Regions from separate parts of the Homo sapiens genome. Here all the other regions are linked to region 3. Evidence: fine-mapped expression QTL. A gene starts in region 3. Each other region holds a variant in brackets. All regions are shown on one strand. Distances are from middle to middle.

Region 1 (6,976 bases), 220 kb after region 3:
TACATAATGAACTTTTGCATCATCTAGGGTCACAAAGATTTTCTCCTATGTTTCCTTCTAGAAATGTTAAGTTTTGCATTTAGTGATGTGGTCCATTTTGAGTTAACTTTTGTACAGAACGTCTTTCTATTTAAAGTGTATTTTGGCCAGGTGCAGGGCTCACGCCTGTAATCCCTGCACTTTGGGAGGCTGAAGCGGGTAGATCACAAGGTCAGGTGTTTGAGACCAGCCTGGCCAACATAGTGAAACCTCATCTCTACTAAAAATACAAAAAATTAGCCGGGTGTGGTGGTGGGCACCTGTAATCCCAGCTACTTGGGAGGCTGAGGCAGGAGAATTGCTTGAACCCGGGAAGTGGAGGTTGCAGTGAGCTGAGATCATGCCACTGTACTCCAGTCTGGGCGACAGTGCAAGACTCCGTCTCACACACACACACACACAATTTCTTGTGGGCAGCATAGAGTTGGGTCATGCTTTTTCATTTAGTCTGAAATCTCTGTCTTATAATTGGATGTTTACATAATTTAGAGTCAATGCAATTATTAGTATGGTTAGGTATAAATCTATTATTTTCAGCCAGGCATGGCAGCTCACACATGTAATCCTAGCACTTTGGGAGGCCAAGGTGGGGGGATTACGCGAGGTCAGGAGTTTGAGACCAGCCTAGCAAACATGGAGAAACCCTGTCTCTACTAAAAATACAAAAAAATTAACCAGGCATGGTGGTGCATGCCTGTAATCCCAGCTACTCAGGAGGCTGAGGCACGAGAATCACTTGAACCCTGGAGGTGGAGGTTGCAGTGAGCCAAGATCATGCCACTGCACTCTAGCCTTGGTGGCAGAGTGAGATTCCATCTGGGGAAAAAAAAAAAATTCTGAATATCCTGAGACTGCCATGCTATGCAGAAGCTGAAGCTGGGCATGGCAAGAGGCAGCATGGAGAGAGAGATAGATAACTGGTCAGCCGCAGCTGATCTAGCCATCCCAACTGAGATGTCAGACATGTAAGACGCCATCTTGGATTTCCAGCCCAGCTGAGCCTTTGGATGACTCCAGCCCCAGCTGCCATCTGAATGCAACTAGTTGAGAAACTCCACCCAATCATTGGCTCATTTGGCAGGGTGCAGTAGCTCACACCTGTAATCCCAGCATTTTGGGAGGCTGAGGCACATGGATCACCTGAGGTCAGGGGTTCAAGACCAGCCTAGCCAACTTGGTGAAACCCTGTCTCTACTGAAAATACAAAAAAATTAGCTGGGGCATGGTGGTGGGTGCCTGTCATCCCAGCTACTCGGGAGGCTGAGGCAGGAGAATCGCTTGAACCCAGGAGGCGGAGGTTTGCAGTAAACCGAGATCACACCATTGCAGTCCAGCCTGGACAACAAGAGCAAAACTCCATCTCAGAAAAAAAAAAAAAAAAAGGCAAAACAAAAATCAGCCGGGTGTGGTAGCCAGCACCTGTAATCCCAGCTACTCGGGAGGCTGAGGCAGGAGAATTGCTTGAACCGGGGAGGCAGAGATTGCAGTGAGCCAAGATTGCGCCACTGCACTCCAACCTGGGCGACATAGTGAGACTCCATCTCAAAAAAAAAAGAATCGACTGGTTAAACCCACTTAACCTACTGAACCATGAGATGTCATATTTGACTGCTATTTTAAGCCAATGAGCTTTTGGGGTGGTTTGAGATTTTGGGATGGGACTGCTATTTTAAGCCAATGGGCTTTTGGGGTGAGGTGCTACCCCAAAATGCCACCCCTCCCACATCTCCTGGCAGCAGTCAGATGGCAAGGAGAGAGAATCTGTGCATTTGGGGTAGGGAGAGCTCAGTGACTGATTTGAGGCTTTGCATTGGAACTCAGCGCTGTTCTATTACAGTGGAAAGCACCATGGGGCAGAAATCAGACACCACCCATGGAGGGAGCATTTAAATGATCATTAGACAGAGGGAAATCATCTATTCTAGTGGTGAGAACCTGAGTTCTGGCATGCCTAGCCACTGCGGGCCAAAGTGCTCTGGGACCCTAAATCAACTTGAGGCTGGGCGCGGTGGCTCATGCCTGTAATCCCAGCACTTTGGGAAGCTTAGGCAGGCGGATCACGAGGTCAGGAGTTCGAGACCAGCCTCACCAACATGGTGAAACCCCGTCTCTACTAAAAATACAAAAATTAGCTGGGAATGGTGGCGCACGCCTGTAATCCCAGCTACTTAGGAGGCTGAGGCAGGAGAATCGCTTGAACCCAAGAGGCAGAGATTGCAGTGAGCCGAGAGCACGTCATTGCACTCCAGCCCGGACAACAGCAAGACTCCATCTCAAATAAATAAATAAATAAATAAATAAATAAACTTGAAAGGCAGTCAGGCCACAAGGACTGCAATTTCTGGGCAAGTCCTGGTGCCTTGCTGGGCTCAGAACAAGTGGACCTGGAGGGCATGAGGCCCACTGAGACATTGGCTGAGGCAGCCAAGGGAGTGCTTGAGCCCCCGAGCCCCAAACCCCAGGCAGTATAGCTTGCAGTTCCGGGAGAGACTCCTTCCTTCTGCTTGAGAAGAGGAGACGAAAAGTCAAGAGGTCTTTGTTTTGCAACTTGGATACCAGCTCAGCCATAGGAGGATAGGGCACCAGGCGGAGTCCTGAGGCCCCCATTCCAGGCCCTAACTCCTGGATGACATTTTTGGACACACCCTGGACCAGAAGGGAAGCCGCTGCCTTGAAAGGAAGGACCCAGTCCTGGCAGGATTCATTACTTGCTGACTAAAGATCTCTTGGGCCTTGAATAAACATCAGTGGTTGCCAGAGAGTGCTCGCCGCAGGCCTTGGGTGAGACCCAGTGCCGTGCTGATTTCAGGTGTGACCCAGCGCATTCCCAGCTGTGGTGGCCCTGGGGAAAGACTCCTGCTTGAGGAAAGGAGAGGAAAGAGTAAAGGAGACTTTGTCTTGCATCTTGGACACCAGCTTGGCCACAGTAGGGTAGAGCACCCAGCAGCTGCTGGCATCCCCAATTGAGGTCTTGGCTCTTGCACAGCATTTCTGGACCTGCCCTGGGCTAGAGGGGAGCTGTCTTCCCTGAAGGAAAAGACCCAGGCCTGGCAGCACTCACCACAAGCTGACTGAAGAGGGCCTGGGCCTTGAGTGAACATCAGCAGTAGCCAGGCAGTACCTGCCATGGGCCTGGAGCAGTGGTGGCCACAGAGAGAGACTCCTGTGTGAGGAAAAGTGAGGGAAGAGTGGTGTATTAGTCTGTTTTCATGCTGCTGATAAAGACATACCTGAGACTGGGTAATTAATAAAGAAAAAGAG[G/T]CTTAATGAACTCCCAGTTCCACGTGGCTGGGGAGGCCTCACAATCATGGCAGAAGCTGAAAGGCACGTCTTTTTTTTTTTTTTTTTTTTTTTTTTTAGATGGAGTCTCACTCTGTCACCCAGGCTGGAGTGCAGTGGCACAGTCTGGGCTAACTGCAAGCTCTGCCTCCCGGGTTCACGCCATTCTCCTGCCTCAGCCTCCAGAGTAGCTGGGATTACAGGCGCCCAGCTAATTTTTTGTAGTTTTTAGTAGAGACGGGGTTTCACCATGTTAGCCAGGATGGTCTCGATCTCCTGACCTCATGATCCACCCGCCTCGGCCTCCCAAAGTGCTGGGATTACAGGCGTGAGCTGCCATGCCTGGCCAAAAGGCACGTCTTACATGGTGGCAGGCAAGACAGAATGAGAACCAAGCCAAAGGGGTTTCCCCTTATAAAGCCATCAGATCTCATGAGACTTATTCAATACCACAAGAACAGTATGGGGGAAACTGCCCCCATGACTCACTTATCTCCCACTGGGTACCCCCTATAACATAGGGGAATTATGGGAGCTACAAATCAAGATGAGATTTGGGTGGGACACAGCCAAACCATATCAAGTAGGAAAGACTTTTTCTTGTGGCTTGGGTGCCAGCTCAGCCACAGTAGAATAGAGCACCAGGTAGATTCCTAAGGTTTCTGTCTCCAGGCCCTGGCTCCCAGATGGCATTTCTGGACCTGCCCTGGGCCAGGAGAGAACTCACCATCCTGAAGGGAAGGACACAAGCCCGGCAGGCTTCACCACCTGCTGGCCGAAGAGCCCTTGGGCCTTGTGTGAACATTGGTGGAAGCCAGGTAGTGGTTGCCACGGGCCCTGGGTGAGACCTAGTGGTGTGTTGGCTTTGGGTCTGACCCAGTGCAGTCCCAGTGGTGGTGGCCACAAGGGTACTTGTGTCACCCCTCCAGCAGCCCCAGGCAGCTCCGTACAGAGATAGAGAGACTGCGTTTGTTTGGAGAAAGTAAGGGAAGAGAAGAGTTTCTGCCTGGTAATTTAGGGAATTCTCCTGAATCTTAACCAAGACCACTGAGGCAGTACCTCTAAGATTCCTTTTTTTTTTTTTTTTGAGACAGGGTCTTACTCTGTCGCCCAGGCTGGAATGCAGTGCTGCAATCTCCACTCAGTGCAACCTCCACCTCCCATGCGCAAGTGATTCTCCCGCCTCAGCCTCCCAAGTAGCTGGGACTACAGGCGCCCACCCCTACGCCTGGCAAATTTTTGTATTTTTTGGTAGAGACAGGGTTTCACCATGTTGGCCAGGCTGGTCTCAAACTCCCGACCTCAGATGATCCGCCTGCCTAGGCTGCCCAATGTGCTGGGATTACAGGCGTGAGCCACTGCGCCTGGCCAGCACCTCTAAGATGCTGCAAGAATCACAGCATTACTGAGCCTGGGGTGCCCCCTAATGCAGATACAGCTGCAGTGACCAAAAGTTTAGTTCACAACACTCAATTTCCTGGCAAGCCTTCCCAAGAAGGATGGGTTCAAATAAGCTCAGACTACAAAGACTACAATAAACACTGAACTCATCAATGCCCAGCCATTGACGAACATCCACAAGCATTGACACCATCCAGGAAAACATGACCTCACCAAGTGAACTAAACAAGGCTCCAGTGACCAACCCCATTGTGACAGAGCTATGTGACCTTTCAGACGGAGAATTCAAAACAGCTGTTTTGAGGAAGCTCAATGAAATTCAAGATAACACAGAGAAGGGATTCAGAATCCTATCGGATAAATTAACCAAACAGATTGAAATAATTTTTAAAAATTAAGCAGAAAGGGGCTGGGCACGGTGTCTCACACCTGTAATCCCAGCATTTCGGGAGGCCGAGGCAGGTGGATCACGAGGTCATGAGATCAAGACCATCCTGGCTAACACGGTGAAACCCCATCTCTACTAAAAATACAAAAAAATTAGCCAGGCGTGGTGGTAGGCGCCTGTAGTCCCAGCTACTCGGAAGGCTGAGGCAGGAGGATGGCATGAACTCGGGAGGTGGAGCTTGCAGTGAGCGGAGATCGTGTCACTGCACCCCAGCCTGGGCGACACAGCGAGACTCCGTCTCAAAAAAAAAAAAAAAAATTAAGTAGAAAAAATTCAACTGACACACTGAAGAATGCATCAGTCTCTGAACAGTAGAATTGATCAACCTGAAGAATTGGTGAGCTCAAAGACAGGCTATTTGAAAATATGCAGTCAGGCCGGGCACAGTGGCTCATACCTGTAATCCCAGCACTTTGAAAGGCTGAAGTGGTTGGATCACCTGAGGTCAGGAGTTTGAGACTAGTTTGGCCAACATAGTGAAATCCTGTCTCTACTAAAAATAGAAAAATTAGCTGGGCATGGTGGTGCATGCCTGTAATCCCAGCTACTCAGGAGGCTGAGGCTCCAGAATTGATTGAACGCAGGAAGTGGAGGTTGTAGTGAGCCAAGATTGCAGCACCACTGCACTCCAGCCTGGTCGACAAAGTGAGACTCTGTCTCAAAAAGAGAAGAGAAGAGAGGAGAGGAGAGGAGGAGAAGAGAAGAGAAGAAAGAAGAGAAGAGAACAGAAGAGAAGAGAACAGAAGAGAACAGAAGAGAAGAGAAAAGAGATGAGACAGGACAAGACACAGCCAGAGGAGACAAAAGAAAAAATAAAAAAGAATAAAGGCCAGGCGCAGTGGCTCACACCTGTAATCCCAGCACTTTGGGAGGCCGAGGCAAGCGGATCACGAGGTCAGGAGTTTGAGACCATCCTGGCCAACATGGTGAAACCCCATCTCTACCAAAATACAAAAAATTAGCCAGGTGTAGTGGCAGGCACCTGTAATCCCAGCTACTCGGGAGGCTGAGGCAGGGGAATTGCTTGAACCCGGGAGGCGGAGGTTGCAGTGAGCCAAGATCGTGCCACTGTGCTCCAGCCTGGAGACAGAGCAAGACTCCATCTCAAAAAAAAAAAAAAAAAAAAAAAAAGAATAAGGCACACCTACAAGATCTAGAAAATAGCCACAAAAAGGAAAAATCTGAGTTTTATTGGCCGTAAAGAGAAAGTAGAGAGATTGGAATAGAAAGTTTATTAAGTGGGATAATAACAGAGAACTTTCCAAACCTAGAAAAAGATATCAATATTCAAATACGAGAAGGTTATAGAACACTAGGCAGATTTAACCCAAAGACTACCTTCAAGGCATTTAATAATCAAACTCCCAAAGATCAGGGATAAAGAAAGGGTCCTAAAAGCAGCAAGAGAAAAGTAACAAATAACTTACAATGGAGGCCGTGTGCAGTGGTTCACGTCTGTAATCCCCAGCATTTAGGGAGGCTGAGGCGGGTGAATCACTTGAGGCCAGGAGTTACAGACCAGTCTGGGCAACATGGTGAAATCCCGTCTCGACTAAAAATACAAAAAAAATTAGCCAGGCATGAGGCCAGGCGCAGTGGCTCACACCTGTAATCCCAGCTACTCGGGAGGCTGAGGCACGAGAATCGCTTGAACCTGGGAGGTGCAGGTTGCAGTGAGCCGAGATTTCGTCACTGTACTCCAGCCTGGGTGACTGAGTGAGACTCTGTCTCAAAAACAAAAACAAAAACAAACATACAATGGAGCTCCAATACGTCTGGCAGCAGACTTCAGTGGAAACCTCACAGGCT
Region 2 (6,976 bases), 870 kb after region 3:
GCATAGGCTGTGCAGATATGCCACAGTGATCACCTCCCAGTCAGTGTGACTCCATGCAACTTGTGCCTGCTGGCTCTAAACCCAGTTAGAATTCTCTGTGGAAAACTGCCTGAGCAGTTTCCTTAGACTCCAATAAAAGCATCAGCCCACAGGTCTCTCACTTTCTCTTTCTTGCTCCCCACCCGCTGGTTGAGTGTGCGTGTCCCGACAACTCTCTTCTTCCTGTTGGCTCTGTGAGATGTGCTGCTCTGTCTTCTCCGGAATCTGTGAGTAATAAACTGCCCCTGTTATTTCATGTGTTTTGTTGTGCTGCCTCCTCTGTGTCTCACCTGACTGACACATCCAAACCTAACGTCTTTCCTGGTCAGGGCTGTCCTAAAGCATGGCTCTCTTTGTAGAAATAAACTGGACACAGGTCAGACAAAAGCCTTAAGAATGTCTGCCATTATAAACAAGTGTACTGTGGCCAGGTGTGATGGCTCATGCCTGTGATCCCAGCACTATGGGAGGTTGGGGTGGGAGGATCCCATGAGGCTAGGAGTTCAAGATCAGCCTGGCCAACATGGTGAAACCCCGTCTGTACTTAAAAAAAAAAAAAAATTAGTTGGGTGTAGTGGCATATGTCTGTAATCCCACCTACTCAGGAGGCTGAGGCATGAGAATTGCTTGAACCTGGGAGGTGGAGGTTGCAGTGAGCCAAGACCATACCACTGCGCTCCGACCTGGGTGACAGAGTGAGACTCTGTCTCAAAAACAAACAAACACACAAAAAATAAGTGTACTGTGAGAGGGACACCTGGTCACAGGTCAGACATGTAGGCATTAGGCCGACCACCAAGATAAAGAAGTAACCAGTGAAAATTACACTTTAAACATCTACAACTAAATCCCCTAGAAAACTCAAGACCAAGTTAGAAAACATCAACAACAATCCATGTCATCTCTATTAATTGTCTTTCCTCATTTAATTTCAGGAATGTCTTTCTCATTCAGTCAATTTTTTTTTTTTTTTTGTAGAGATGGGGTCTCACTATGTTGCCCACGCTGGTCTCGAACTTCTGAGCTCAAGCAATTCTCCCACCTCGGCCTCCCAAAGTATTGGGATTACATGTAGGTGTATGACAAGTGATTTTCAACAACACCCTGGACATTTTGGAAATTATGAGACGCTGGATCTCATTTAAATCTTCTGTTATAGCAGGTCTCCTCTGACATCTTGCTGGTGGGGCAAAAAGGGCACCATCTTGTTATAGCCAGTGGGGATGGAGGTCCAGGTTCCCCATTTGGCCTCTGTTGACATTCCAGGTGGGGCGGGGCAACTGTTACTCTGGGCAGTTAGCAGAGTTCAGGCTTTCCACTGAGACATCCTCTGATACCATCTTGCCCAGAAGGGGCAGAGACGCCTCGTTACCGCTCCCTAGTGGCCTCAATGGACACTGCAGGGTCGGTGCTCATTACTGCTGGGCAAGGATGACAGTCCCAGCTGCTTATTCAGCCTGGTGGAGGGGATGGGTGTCTCTGTACAGCTGGCAAGGGTAAATGTCCAGGCTTTTCTGTGGGATATCACAGCAGCAAAGTGATTATCTTGTAAAGATTTGCTGTCTTTAGCAAATCTTGTCAGGCTACTGCTCCTTGTCCTTTGGCTAGAGCAGGCTTTGCTTGAGCCTCTTTTGGATCTACACTCATTGGCATTTCTAGATTGCCAGGCTCTCCAGCTCCCAGTCTGGGATCTGTGAGGCGCAAAGAAAGTCCAGAAAACTCACCACCATGTGCTTTCTCCGGTCTTGAGATCCGCAGCCAGTCTGCCATATTCTCTCCTCCTTTCCGAGTCATCTATTTTTATTTATTTATTTATTTATTTATTTATTTATTTATTTATTCATTCTTTAGCTGCACCTGTGATAGACTGCTTGATATTATTCCCATAGAACAATGATGTTCTGTTCATATTTTTGAGGCTTTTTCTCTATTGCTTTATTTTATTTTATTTATTTTTCCATAGATTATTGGGGTACAGGTCGGTTTGGTTACATGAGTAAGTTCTTTGGGGGTGATTTGTGAGATTTTGGTGCACCCATCACCTGAGCGGTATACACTCCACCCTATTTGTAGTCTTTCATCCCTCACTCCCCTCCCACTCTTCACCCCAAGTCCCCAAAGTCCATTGTATCATTCTTACGCTTTTGTGTCCTCATAGCTTAGCTCCCACATATCAGTGAGAACATATGATGTTTGGTTTTCCATTCCTGAGTTACTTCACTTAGAATAATAGTCTCCAGTCTCATCCAGGTCATTGCAAATGTTGTTAATTCATTCCTTTTTATGACCGAGTAGTATTCCATCATTCATATATATATATATATATATATATATATATATGAACATATATATGAACGTATATATGAACATATATATGAATGTATATATGAACGTATATATGAACGTATATATGAACGTATATATGAACGTATATAT[GAACGTGTATATA/A]TGAACGTATATATGAACGTATATATATGAACGTATATATATGAACGTATATATATGAACGTATATATATGAACGTATATATGAACGTATATATATGAACGTATATATGAACGCGTATATATGAACGTATATATGAACGCGTATATATGAACGCGTATATATGAACGCGTATATATGAACGCGTATATATGAACGTATATATGAACGCGTATATATGAACGCATATATATGAACGCATATATATGAACGCATATATGAACGTATATATAAACGCATATATGAACGTATATATATGAACGTATATATGAACGTATATATATGAACGCATATATGAACGTATATATATGAACGCATATATGAACGTATATATATGAACGCATATATGAACGCATATATGAACGTATATATATGAACGTATATATGAACGTATATATGAACGTATATATGAACATATATATATGAACGTATATATGAACATATATATATATATCACAGTTTCTTTATCCACTTGTTGATTGATGGGTATTTGGGTTGGTGCCACGATTTTGCAATTGTGAATTGTGCTGCTATAAACATGCGTGTGCGAGTATCTTTTTTGTGTAATGACTTCTTTTCCTCTGGGTAGATACCCAGTAGTGGGACTGCTGGATCAAATGGTAGTTCTACTTTTAGTTGTTTAAGGAATCTCCACACTGTTTTTCATAACGGCTGTACTAGTTTACATTCCCACCAGCAGTGTAGAAGTGATAATATCCAAGGTTTTTAACTGTGCTCGGGATGGAATAGGGAAAACTGTGCCTGCTTCATTTTCTGAGATTTTTTAAAAATAGATTTTTCTACATAGTATTTATTTCACAGTGGTTATGAAGTTTGGAGTCACATAGCCCTGAGTTTAAAAATGATTCACCCACTTACAACTTGGTTTTTCACAACTCACTTACCCAACATAAACCTCAGTTTACCTGTTGTAAAATGGGATATTAATAGTCCTTACAGCACAGGGTGGTACCAGTAGTACATGAGATAATGCTTGCAGTGCAAGCAATGGAAGCAATGCAAGCAAGCATCCAGCAGTTTTTTTTCCTTTCTTCCTTTTTTTTTTTTTCATTTTTTTGAGATGGAGTCTCACTCTGTTGTCCATGCTGGAGTGTCGTGGTATGATCTCGGCTCACTGCAACCCCCACCATCCAGGTTCAAGAGATCCTCCCACCTCAGCCTCCCAAGTAGCTGGAATTACAAGTGCGTGCCACCACACCTGGCTAATTTTTGTATTTTTTAGTAGAGACGGGGTTTCACCATGTTGGCCAAGCTGGTCTCAAACTCCTGACCTCAGGTGATCCACCTTCCTCAGCCTCCCAAAGAGCTGGGATTACAGGCCTGAGCCACCACACCCAGCCGGTGATGGATATATTAATTAGCTTGATTGTAGAGATCAACTATCAAAACATCAAGTTGTACACTTTGAACATACAACATTTTTATTTGCTTATTATACCTCAATAAAACTGTTTTTAAAAGTGTAATCATTGGGTCAAAAGTTATATAAACATGTGTAACTTTCAACTTGTATTTCTAAGTTGACTTCAAGAAAGATATTTACTTCCTGTCAGGCCAGCACTTTGGGAGGTCAAGACAGGAGGATCACTTGAGCCCAGGAGTTTGAGACCAGCCTGGGCAGCACAGCAAGACCCCACCCTACAAAAGTTTTTCAAAAGTAGCTGAGGATGGTGACATGCATGGATCTCAGCTACTCAGGAGGCTGAGGCGGGAGGATCGCTTGTGCCTGGGAGGTTGAGACTATGGTGAGCCGTGTTAGTGCCACTGCACTGAAGCCTGGGCAACAGAACAAGACCCTGTCTCAAAAAAGAAAGATATTTACTAATTTGTAATCTAGGTATAAGATTCCTCACTTGAAATCTAAAGTTGGTCTTTAGAGTGCCCCATAACCCCTTGAAATTATATACAAATGTGTAGGTATTTGTGTGGTGTGTGTGTTATTGGGTGTATTTCTGGGGAGAGGATCTGGGATCTCTAGACAGTTAAGAACTTCCGGAAGTAGAGCTGTTGGCTGTGTGTGTGTGTGTGTGTGTGTGTGTGTGTGTGCTTATTGGTCATCTTGGAAACAGCAAAGCCAACGCTGGTGTTTCCAAGGTCCCCAGCCTATTCGTGCTGCTGATCATTCCTAGGGTTCCAGATCCTCCCATGTCCTATAACGCCATTCTTTCTCTTTCCTTCTCCCCAGAGAAGCTGCACCAGCCCCCGGTGGAAGCCCAGAACTTGGCCCCTCTGGAGCACACAGACTCCTTGAATTTGACATGCATTTCTCCAAACAATGACAGGACATTCCAGTGGTTTCTGAACCTTGAGGTGATTCAGGAAGGGGATGGACCAGTAATCTCCAGAGATGGCAGGGTCCTCACCATCCCCACAGTCACACGCAATGACTCCAGCACCTACCACTGTGAGGCCAGGAACCACCTGGGATCCAGGCTCAGTGAAGCCCTCGTGGTTGGCGTGGCTTGTAAGTCTGGGTTTCTTTGCTCTGACTCACCTCTGATCCACACAGAACCTCCAGCCCAACTATCTACTGGTTCATCCATGATTTATAGCTTAGCGTTTAAATCAGAGACTCTACAGACTGCCTTGGTTCAAATCCTAGTGCTTCTGTTTCTTTTATTTATTTATTTATTGAGTCATGGTCTCACTCTGTTGTCCAGGCTGGAGTGCAGTGGCTGGATCATAGCTCACTGCAGCCTTGCCCTTCTGGGCTCAAGCAATCCTCCTGCCTCAGCCACCGGAGTAGCTGGGATCGCAGGCACATGCCTCTATGCCTGGCTAATTTTTACAAGTTTTGGTAGAGACAAAGTCTCACTATGTTGCCCAGCCTAGTCTTGAACTCCTAAGCTCAAGCAATCCTCCTGCCTCAGCCTCCCAAAGTGCTAGAATTACAGGCGTGAGCCTCTGCGCCCAGCCGTCCCTGCTATTTCTTAGCTAGGTGTCCTTGGGCAAGTCACTTCACTTTTCTATGTCCTCAGTTTTCTCATCTGCAAAGTGAGAATCATAATATTATCTATCTCATTGGGTGATTATGAGGATTAAGTGAGTTAGTTCATTTAAGGAACTTAGAATAGTGCCTGGAACATAGCAAGTGCTTCTTTTTTTCTCTTTTTTTCTTTATTCTTTTCCACTACTCTGCACACTAAGTGCTTAATAGACGTTTACAATGACTATTCTCTCAGAAGTTTATCATCATTTATTTATTTAAGGGGCATGTATTGAGCTTCTACTATGTACCCAATTAAGGACTTTCAGACCCATTCAATCTCAGGTACAAAGGTAGATGGAGATTGTAGGAAGCCAAGATCCCAGAAATTCCAGACTCGACAACATAAATATTTGCAGAACTGGAAGGACTTTCAGAGACACCACATTTTACAAACAAGAAAACTGAGATTAAGAAAGGGGAAGGGCTCACCCAAGATCTCACCGTGGTCAAGAAGAAAGATAAGAACTTGAACCCATGTGTTTTTCTCTCTCTGCCCCTCTGTCTCTCTACTTTTGGGAAAGCATCTACTGAGCATCCACTGTGTGCTGTGTGTATTGGGTGTTATTTCTAGTCAAAGCAGTTAACATAACTGACAAGCATATCCCTGTCCTCATGGAGCTGACAGTCTTCAAAGATCAAGGAGGGTAATAGACACAAGAGGGAGGCTACCGCCAGCCATGGTTCGTTTGTTCTTTCCCTCCTTCCTTCCTTCCTTCCTTCCTTCCTTCCTTCCTTCCTTCCTTCCTTCCTCCCTCCCTCCCTCCCTCCCTCCCTTCCTCCCCTCCCTCCCTTCCTTCCTCTGACAAACTTTTACGTTGTGGTGCTGTGTGCCTCCCTCAACATGTCAGGCTTCCAACACTGAGCTGAAATGCACAATCTAGGGGGGTGGTCCTTACTTCTCATACTCTTCCTAATTAGGAAGTCTTTCTCCTTGTTCAGATGGCCCGGATACCCCCATCATGACCGCACTGGACCCAGATTTTGTGATTGGTTCCAACCTCACTCTGGTCTGCTTAGCCTACTCCCACCTCCTTGCCCAGTACACATGGAGCTTCAGTGGGGTCACCACATGGGAGGGCCAGACCCTCTTCATGCCCAGTCTCTCCAGGGCACACTCAGGGGTCTACACCTGCAAGGCCTCCAACTCCCTTTCCGGCTTGCACAGCAGTATGGACACCATCATCACTGTCTCAGGTATGAAGCCAGGGTTGAGGGTGATTGGTTAATGGTGAAATCTTCAAAATCAAAGAAAAAAAAAAGAAAAAGAAAAAAATAAGAGAAAAATTCTTCTCTGCCCCAGGACTTCATTGGCGAATTTGGGTTTGGTTTTGTTTTTTAGAATTCTTTTCTTTGCTGTTTCACTTCTTTATATATTCAGCAAGATTTTTCTAACCTGTGTTATGCAGAATAAATTTTTACATTCTTTAACCAACAAAATGACTT
Region 3 (6,774 bases):
TCCCCAAGGGGATAACTGAGTCACAAGCCCTTCTACTTGGGATGACCTACTTCTAGAATCGCTGTATGGTCTTGGATACAGAGGCATATTTCATTTTTTCTTTTTTTCGTTTTTTGAGACGGAGTCTCGCTCTGTCGCCCAGGCTAGAGTGCAGTGGTGTAATCTCGGCTCACTGCAACCTCCGCCTCCTGGGTTCAAGCAATTCTCCGTCTCAGCCTCCCGAGTAGCTGGGATTACAGGCGTCCGCCACCACGCCCGGCTAATTTTTTTTTTGTATTTTTTAGTAGAGACAAGGTTTCATCATCTTGGCCAGGCTGGTTTTGAACTCCTGACCTCGTGATCCACCTTCCATCGGCCTCCCAAAGTGCCGAGATTACAGGCGTGAGCCACTGTGCCCGGCCTCCTGGGGGAAAATTATACCTAGTGATGAGACTATTAGACTGATTCTCCTTCCTTCCTACTAGGCGTGAGCCACCTCTCCTGGCCCCTATATCTTCTAACATTGCAAGAAACAATACTAAGAACCTAGGATTCTGGATTTCCTTTTTCTTTCCTTTCTTTTCTTTCGTTTTTTTGTTTGTTTGTTTGTTTTGTTTTGTTTGTTTTTGGTCTCACTCTGTCACCCAGGCTGGAGTGCAGTGGCACAATCGCAGCTCACTGCAGCCTCTGCCTCCTGGGCTCAAGCAATTCTCCCTCCTCAGCCTCCTGAGTATCTGGGACTACAGGTGCACACCAACACACATAGCTTTTTTTTTTTTTTTTTTTTTTTAGATGGAGTTTCGCTTTTGTCGCCCAGGCTGGAGTACAATTGCGTGATCTTGGCTCACTACAACTTCCACCTCCCGGGTTCAAGTGATTCTCCTGCCTCAGCTTTCCAAAGTGCTGGGATTACAGGCATGAGCTACCTTGCCCAGCCAATTTTTGTGTTTTTTTGTAGAGATGGGGTTTTGTCATGTTGCCCTGGCTGGTCTTGAACTCTGGAGCCCAAGCAATCTGCCCACCTTGGCCTCCTAAATTGTTGGGATTATAGGCATGAGCCACCGCACCCAGCCTAGAATTCTGGATTTCAATTGTTAGGGTGAAAAGAAAAAGGCATTTGAGGTAAGCAAGGTTCAGGACAATAAATCTGGGCAATAGATCAAGACCTTGTCTCAAAAAAAATTTTTTTTTTTTTTTTGAGATGGAGTTTCACTCTTGTTGCCCAGGCTGGAGTGCAATGGTGCGATCTCAGCTCACCGCAACCTTTGCCTCCAGGGTTCAAGCAATTCTCCTGCCTCAGCCTCCTGAGTAGCTGGGATTACAGGCATGTGCCACCATGCCCGGCTAATTTTTTTTTTTTTTTTTTTTTTTGAGACAGAGTCTGGCTCTGTCACCCAGGCTGGAGTCCAGTGGCACAATCTCGGCTCACTGCAGCCTCCGCCTCCCAGGTTCAAGCGATTCTTCTGCCTCAGCCTCCTGAGTAGCTGGGACTACAGGTGTGCGCTACCACGCCCAACTAATTTTAGTATTTTTAGTAAAGACGGGGTTTCACCATATTGGCCAGGCTGGTCTTGAACTCCTGACCTCGTGATCCGCCTGTCTCGGCCTCCCAAAGTGCTGGGATTACAGGTGTGAGCCACTGCACCGGGACTCTAATTTTGTATTTTTAATAGAGATAGGATTTCTCCATGTTGGTCAGGCTGGTCTCGAACTCCTGACCTCAGGTGATCCACCCGCCTAGGCCTCCCAAAGTGCTAGGATTACAGACATTAGCCACCATGCCCAGAAAAAAAAAATTAAGTAAAATGGGAAAATGTAGACACAGATAGACACCCATAGATGAAAGACTGATGTGAACAAAGAAACAGAGGGATGTCATGTACATGCAGGCAAGAATAAATAAAAAGATCAATGAACATAACAGAAATGTCAGAAATAGACGTGTGTGTATGGGAATTTGGTATGTGATAAAGGTAGAATTTCAGAACAGTGGAGAAAAGATCTACCTTTGGTCAACTTGAGACAATTGGTTACATCACTCATAAACAACGACCTCGGTGCACTTTCAAAAATAAATCTTGGCCAGGCACCGTGGCTCATGCTTGTAATCCCAGCACTTTGGGAGGCTGAGGTGGGCAGATCACTTGAGGTCAAGAGTTCGAGACCAGCAGGGCCAACATGGTGAAACTCCGTCTCTACTAAAAATACAAAAGTTAGCCTGTAATCCCAGCTACTTGGGAGGCTGAGGCAGGAGAACTGCTTGAATGTGGGTGGCGGAGGTTGCAGTGAGCCTAGATTGCTCCATTGCACTCCAGCCTAGGCAACAAGAGCAAAACTCCATCTCAAAAAATAATAAATAAATAAATAAATCTTACATAGATTAAAGCCAGATGACCTGCTCATTCTAGGTCATTACTGTTTGGGACCGTGTCTGTGTCCCTCACTGAACTGTAAGCTCTGGGAGGACAACACGGGGCTTTTATCTTTTACGTAGATAAAAGAAATGATAGAATATATCATTATAGCCGTGCACTGTAATCCCAGCACTTTGGGAGGTCACAAAGTGACCTCAGGATCAGCTGAGGTCAGGAGTTTGAGACCAGCCTGGCCAACATGGTGAAACCCCGTCTCTACTAAAAATACAAAAAAAAAAAAAAAAAAAAAAAATTAGCCGGGCATGGTGGCACATGCCTGTAATCCCAGCTACTAAGGAGGCAGGAGAATCGCTTGAACCCGGGAGGGGGAGGTGCAGTGAACTGAGATCGCGCCATTGCACTCCAGCCTGGGTAATAAGAGCGAAACTCCGTCTCGAAAAAAAAAAAAAAAAGAAAAAAAAGAATTTATCATTATGACCCTGGGTTATGGCAGGGCTCTTAACACACCAAAAGCAAAAGTCAGAACGGAACAGATTGATAAATAGTTGCGCATAAACACAAATAACTTCTGTGCCAAAAATAACTAAAGTTAAAGCCCAAAGTAGAAACTAGGAGGAAATGTTTGCAATATGGGTAACTAAGGATTAGAATCAGAATCCATAAAGTACCCCTAGAAATTAATAGTAATAAAAAAGCCATACAACCCATTTTAAAAATGGACAAGGAATATGAGCAAGCAATTCACAGAAGACAAAATTTACAAGACCAATACTTTCACAAAAAACATTCCATTTCCTTAGTAATCAGAGAGCTGCAAGTTAGAACAGTGTGATACTATCCTTTCAGGAAGTGACTAATACTAACTCATCAGCCAGGCCCCTGCTCAGATGTCCCTTCCTCCAGGAAGCCCTTCCGGACTCCGGGGCTGAGTCAGGCGCTCCCCCTGACCCCCATCCCACGGCTCTCCCGGGATCTCCCATCCCAGACCTGCCCATTCTGGGTCAGCACTGGGAACGTGTCTGTGTCCCTTACTGAACCGTAAGCTCCGGGAGGACAACACGGGGCTGTCGTTGGTCACTGCTGTGTCACCAGCACGGACTCGCACAGGACCGGGAAGAGAGGAAGCGCGTGGGGGGAATAGGTGTGGAATAAATGAATGAATGAGGAAACTGAAGCCAAGTCAATGTCTGAGTTGGATTCAAACTTAAGTCTCTCCTTACTGAGAGGAGGGACCAAGTTGGATCTCCTGCGATCTGTTCTCCACTGAGCCCTGCCAGGATTCTGGGCACACAGAAGCGCTCAGTAAGGGCTTTGAAACTTAACAGTTTGGGAGCCAGATCCTCAGGCCACATCTCTCTCCTCCCACGACCTCCGCGGTCCTCCAGAACCATAGAGAGTTGTACAGAGATCGCCCTGCTCTATGCTCTACTCTCCTGGGGAGCGGGGCCAGAGAGGCCGGAAGTGCTGCGAGCCCTGGGCCACGCTGGCCGTGCTGGCAGTGGGCCGCCTCGATCCCTCTGCAGTCTTTCCCTTGAGGCTCCAAGACCAGCAGGTGAGGCCTCGCGGCGCTGAAACCGTGAGGCCCGGACCACAGGTGCGGGAGGCGGAGACTGCGGGTGGAGATTGGCGCCGCGGAAGCCAATCATTGCCGAGTCTGAGAGATGGACAAGGCCAGGCGTGGGGAGGGCGTCCAGATGCTAGCCTCGGGGGCCGGACGAACGGAAGGCGGGGGATGGTGGGGACGGAGCCAATAGAATCCGGTGGGGGCGAGGGGCGGAGCGATGGGACTTGTGGACCTGTAAGGGGCGGGGCGAGCCGAAGGTGGAGGTCAAAGGGGCGTGGCGTTACAGAGCCTCTAGCGCTGGGTGTTGGGGACCTGACGCTATGGAGCTCTCGGAGTTTTGTGGGGGACGGCTGTGAGTGGGGGGTTCCTGCTGCGGGATGAGAACGTAGACGCCAGTGGCTCACTCGCTCCTGGCACCTTCCCTTTCAGGCTCCAGATGGACCCTGGGAAGGACAAAGAGGGGGTGCCCCAGCCCTCAGGGCCGCCAGCAAGGAAGAAATTTGTGATACCCCTCGACGAGGATGAGGTCCCTCCTGGAGTGGTAGGACAAGGAGATGCGGGGCCCCTGGGAGGCTGGGGGCTGTTAGGACGAAGAGGATAGGATGGGGCCTGTGGGACCAGGGTGTGGGTTAGTGGATTTGGGGGCCACGGACGACTTGGGGAAACAGTCCTTGGTCCTCCCCAGGTCCCAGTTTCCCCATCTGTGAAATGGATGGGTGGTTCTAAGAGAGGGCTAAGGCAGAGGCCAGACACTGGCATTCAGCAGGTAGCCCCTGATGTGTTTTACGAGGCCAGCACCCTGATTTTTCAAGACATGAATTTATTGCTCGTGTTTAAGAATCGCCAGGTTTTGCAATCTTAAAAAAATCTACACTTTAGACATATTTTGGTAAATGGAAGGACCTGGCAATATTGAAATCTCCTTCCCAAGGGAAAACAATCGACGGGTGATGAGCATTGGCTATGAAGAAAAGGAAAGTGGGCTAAGGATGTAGGGCATGATGGGGGAGAGGACCTTCCTACTCTATTTATTTATTTATTTATTTATTTTTTTGAGACAGAGTCTCGCTCTTTTGCCCAGGCTGGAGTGCACTGGCACCATCTCGGCTCACTGCAACCTCTGCCTCCTGGGTTCAAGCGATTCTCCTGCCTCAGCCTCCCGAGTAACTGGGATTACAGGAGCGCGCCTGGCTAATTTTTGTATTTTTAGTAGAGACGGGTTTCACCATGTTGGTCAGGCTGGTCTCGAACCTCAAGTGATCCGCCCACCTCGGCCTCCCAAAGTGCTGGGATGTACAGGCATGAGCCACCATGCCTGGCCCCTTCCTACTTTAGATAGGAAGGTCAAGGGAGGGCCTCTCTGAGGAGGTGACATCTTGGTAGAGACGTGAAAGAGGTGAGGGAGTGAGCCATGGCGACATCTGGGGTAGAGGGAACAGCCAGTGCCAAAGCCCTGAGGTCAGAGAGAGCCTGCCGTGTTCAAGGGCAGAACGAAGTCTGGTGGGGCTGGAGTAGAGAAAGCAAGGAGAAGTGGTAGAAGGTGTAGTTTCTGAGGCAAGGAGCAGGGACAGATCTAGAGCCTTGTGGGTGATGGTGACAGCTTTGGCTTTCACTCTGAGGCAGGAGCCACCCACCAGCTCTGAGCAGAGGAGGGACATGAGGACTTAGTTAGGGGACAGACTTCCAGGGGGCGAGGGTGTGGGCAAGGAGCTGGTGAGGAAGTGACTTCAGTGGTCCAAGGGTGAAACGCTGGTGGCTGGGACCAGAGTGGAGGCTGAGGAGTGGGGGAGAAGTGGCTGAATTCAGATTTTGAGCTCTCAGCCTTCTGGAAGGGACATTAGGAGGAAGGAGGATGGGCAGCCCTGAAGAGGGGAGAGGGGTCAAGTGCTGTGGCTCACACCTGTAATCCCAGGACTTTGGGAGGCCGAGGCGGGCGGATCACCTGAGGTCAGGAGTTCGAGATCAGCCTGGACAACATGTTGAAACCCTGTCTCTACTAAAAATACAAAAATTAGCCAGCGTGGTGGTACACGCCTGTAGTCCCAGCTATTTGGGAGGCTGAGACAGGAGAATCGCTTGAACCTGGGGGGCGGAGGTTGCAGTGAGCCGAGATCACGCCACTGCACTCCAGCCTGGGTGACAGAGCAAGACTCCATCTCAAAAAAAAAAAAAAAAAATTAGCTGGGCGTGGTGGTGGGCACCTGTAATCCCAGCTACTTGGGAAGCTGAGGCAGAATTGCTTGAACCCGGGAGGTGGAGGTTGCAATGAGCCAAGATAGTGCCACTACACTCCAGTCTGGGTGACAGAGCAAGACTGTCTCAAAAAAAGAAAAAGAAAGGGGAGAGGAACTCACAGGGCCTCAGATGTCCTCTGCTCACCCCAACCAGTCCCCTGCAAACTCCCTTTCTCCCCACAGGCCAAGCCCTTATTCCGATCTACACAGAGCCTTCCCACTGTGGACACCTCGGCCCAGGCGGCCCCTCAGACCTACGCCGAATATGCCATCTCACAGCCTCTGGAAGGGGCTGGGGCCACGTGCCCCACAGGGTCAGAGCCCCTGGCAGGAGAGACGCCCAACCAGGCCCTGAAACCCGGGGCAAAATCCAACAGCATCATTGTGAGCCCTCGGCAGGTGAGGAGGGAGACGGAGAAGTGAGGCCTTGAGGTTTTCAGTGGGAAACGCTGTTCTAGGGATGACTCCAGTGCAAGGAGGTCTGAGTTCCAGCCACTTTGTTCTCCCCATTCATTCATTCATTCATTCATTCATTCGACAGCAGTGTGTGGGTTGAGAGTGCCCCAGCTCTACTTGCTGGGGCTGTGGCTGTATTGGTGTAGCTCTGTTTCCTCACCCCAGG

What was found. PIP is the estimated chance that this variant, and not a neighbour inherited with it, causes the effect.
Region 1: its variant is fine-mapped to the expression of ERCC1 in atrial appendage (GTEx, PIP 0.96).
Region 2: its variant is fine-mapped to the expression of ERCC1 in monocytes (BLUEPRINT, PIP 0.95).

Annotation. Positions count from the first base shown.
Region 1 is chr19:45,198,632-45,205,607 of GRCh38, reverse strand. It overlaps a transcript of BLOC1S3 not described here. Among named protein-coding and RNA genes, the nearest start is that of BLOC1S3, 23 kb to the right of the region's middle. The variant G/T (reference allele first, on the strand shown) is at 3,301.
Region 2 is chr19:44,546,930-44,553,905 of GRCh38, reverse strand. It overlaps the pseudogene CEACAM22P. Among named protein-coding and RNA genes, the nearest start is that of CEACAM20, 21 kb to the right of the region's middle. The variant GAACGTGTATATA/A (reference allele first, on the strand shown) is at 2,476.
Region 3 is chr19:45,420,955-45,427,728 of GRCh38, reverse strand. It overlaps ERCC1 (ERCC excision repair 1, endonuclease non-catalytic subunit), which reads left to right and starts at 3,812. Exons shown (of 10, transcript NM_001983.4): 1 at 3,812-3,948; 2 at 4,348-4,459; 3 at 6,336-6,551. The coding sequence starts at 4,355. RefSeq lists enhancers at 3,084-3,378, 3,627-3,676, 3,737-3,826.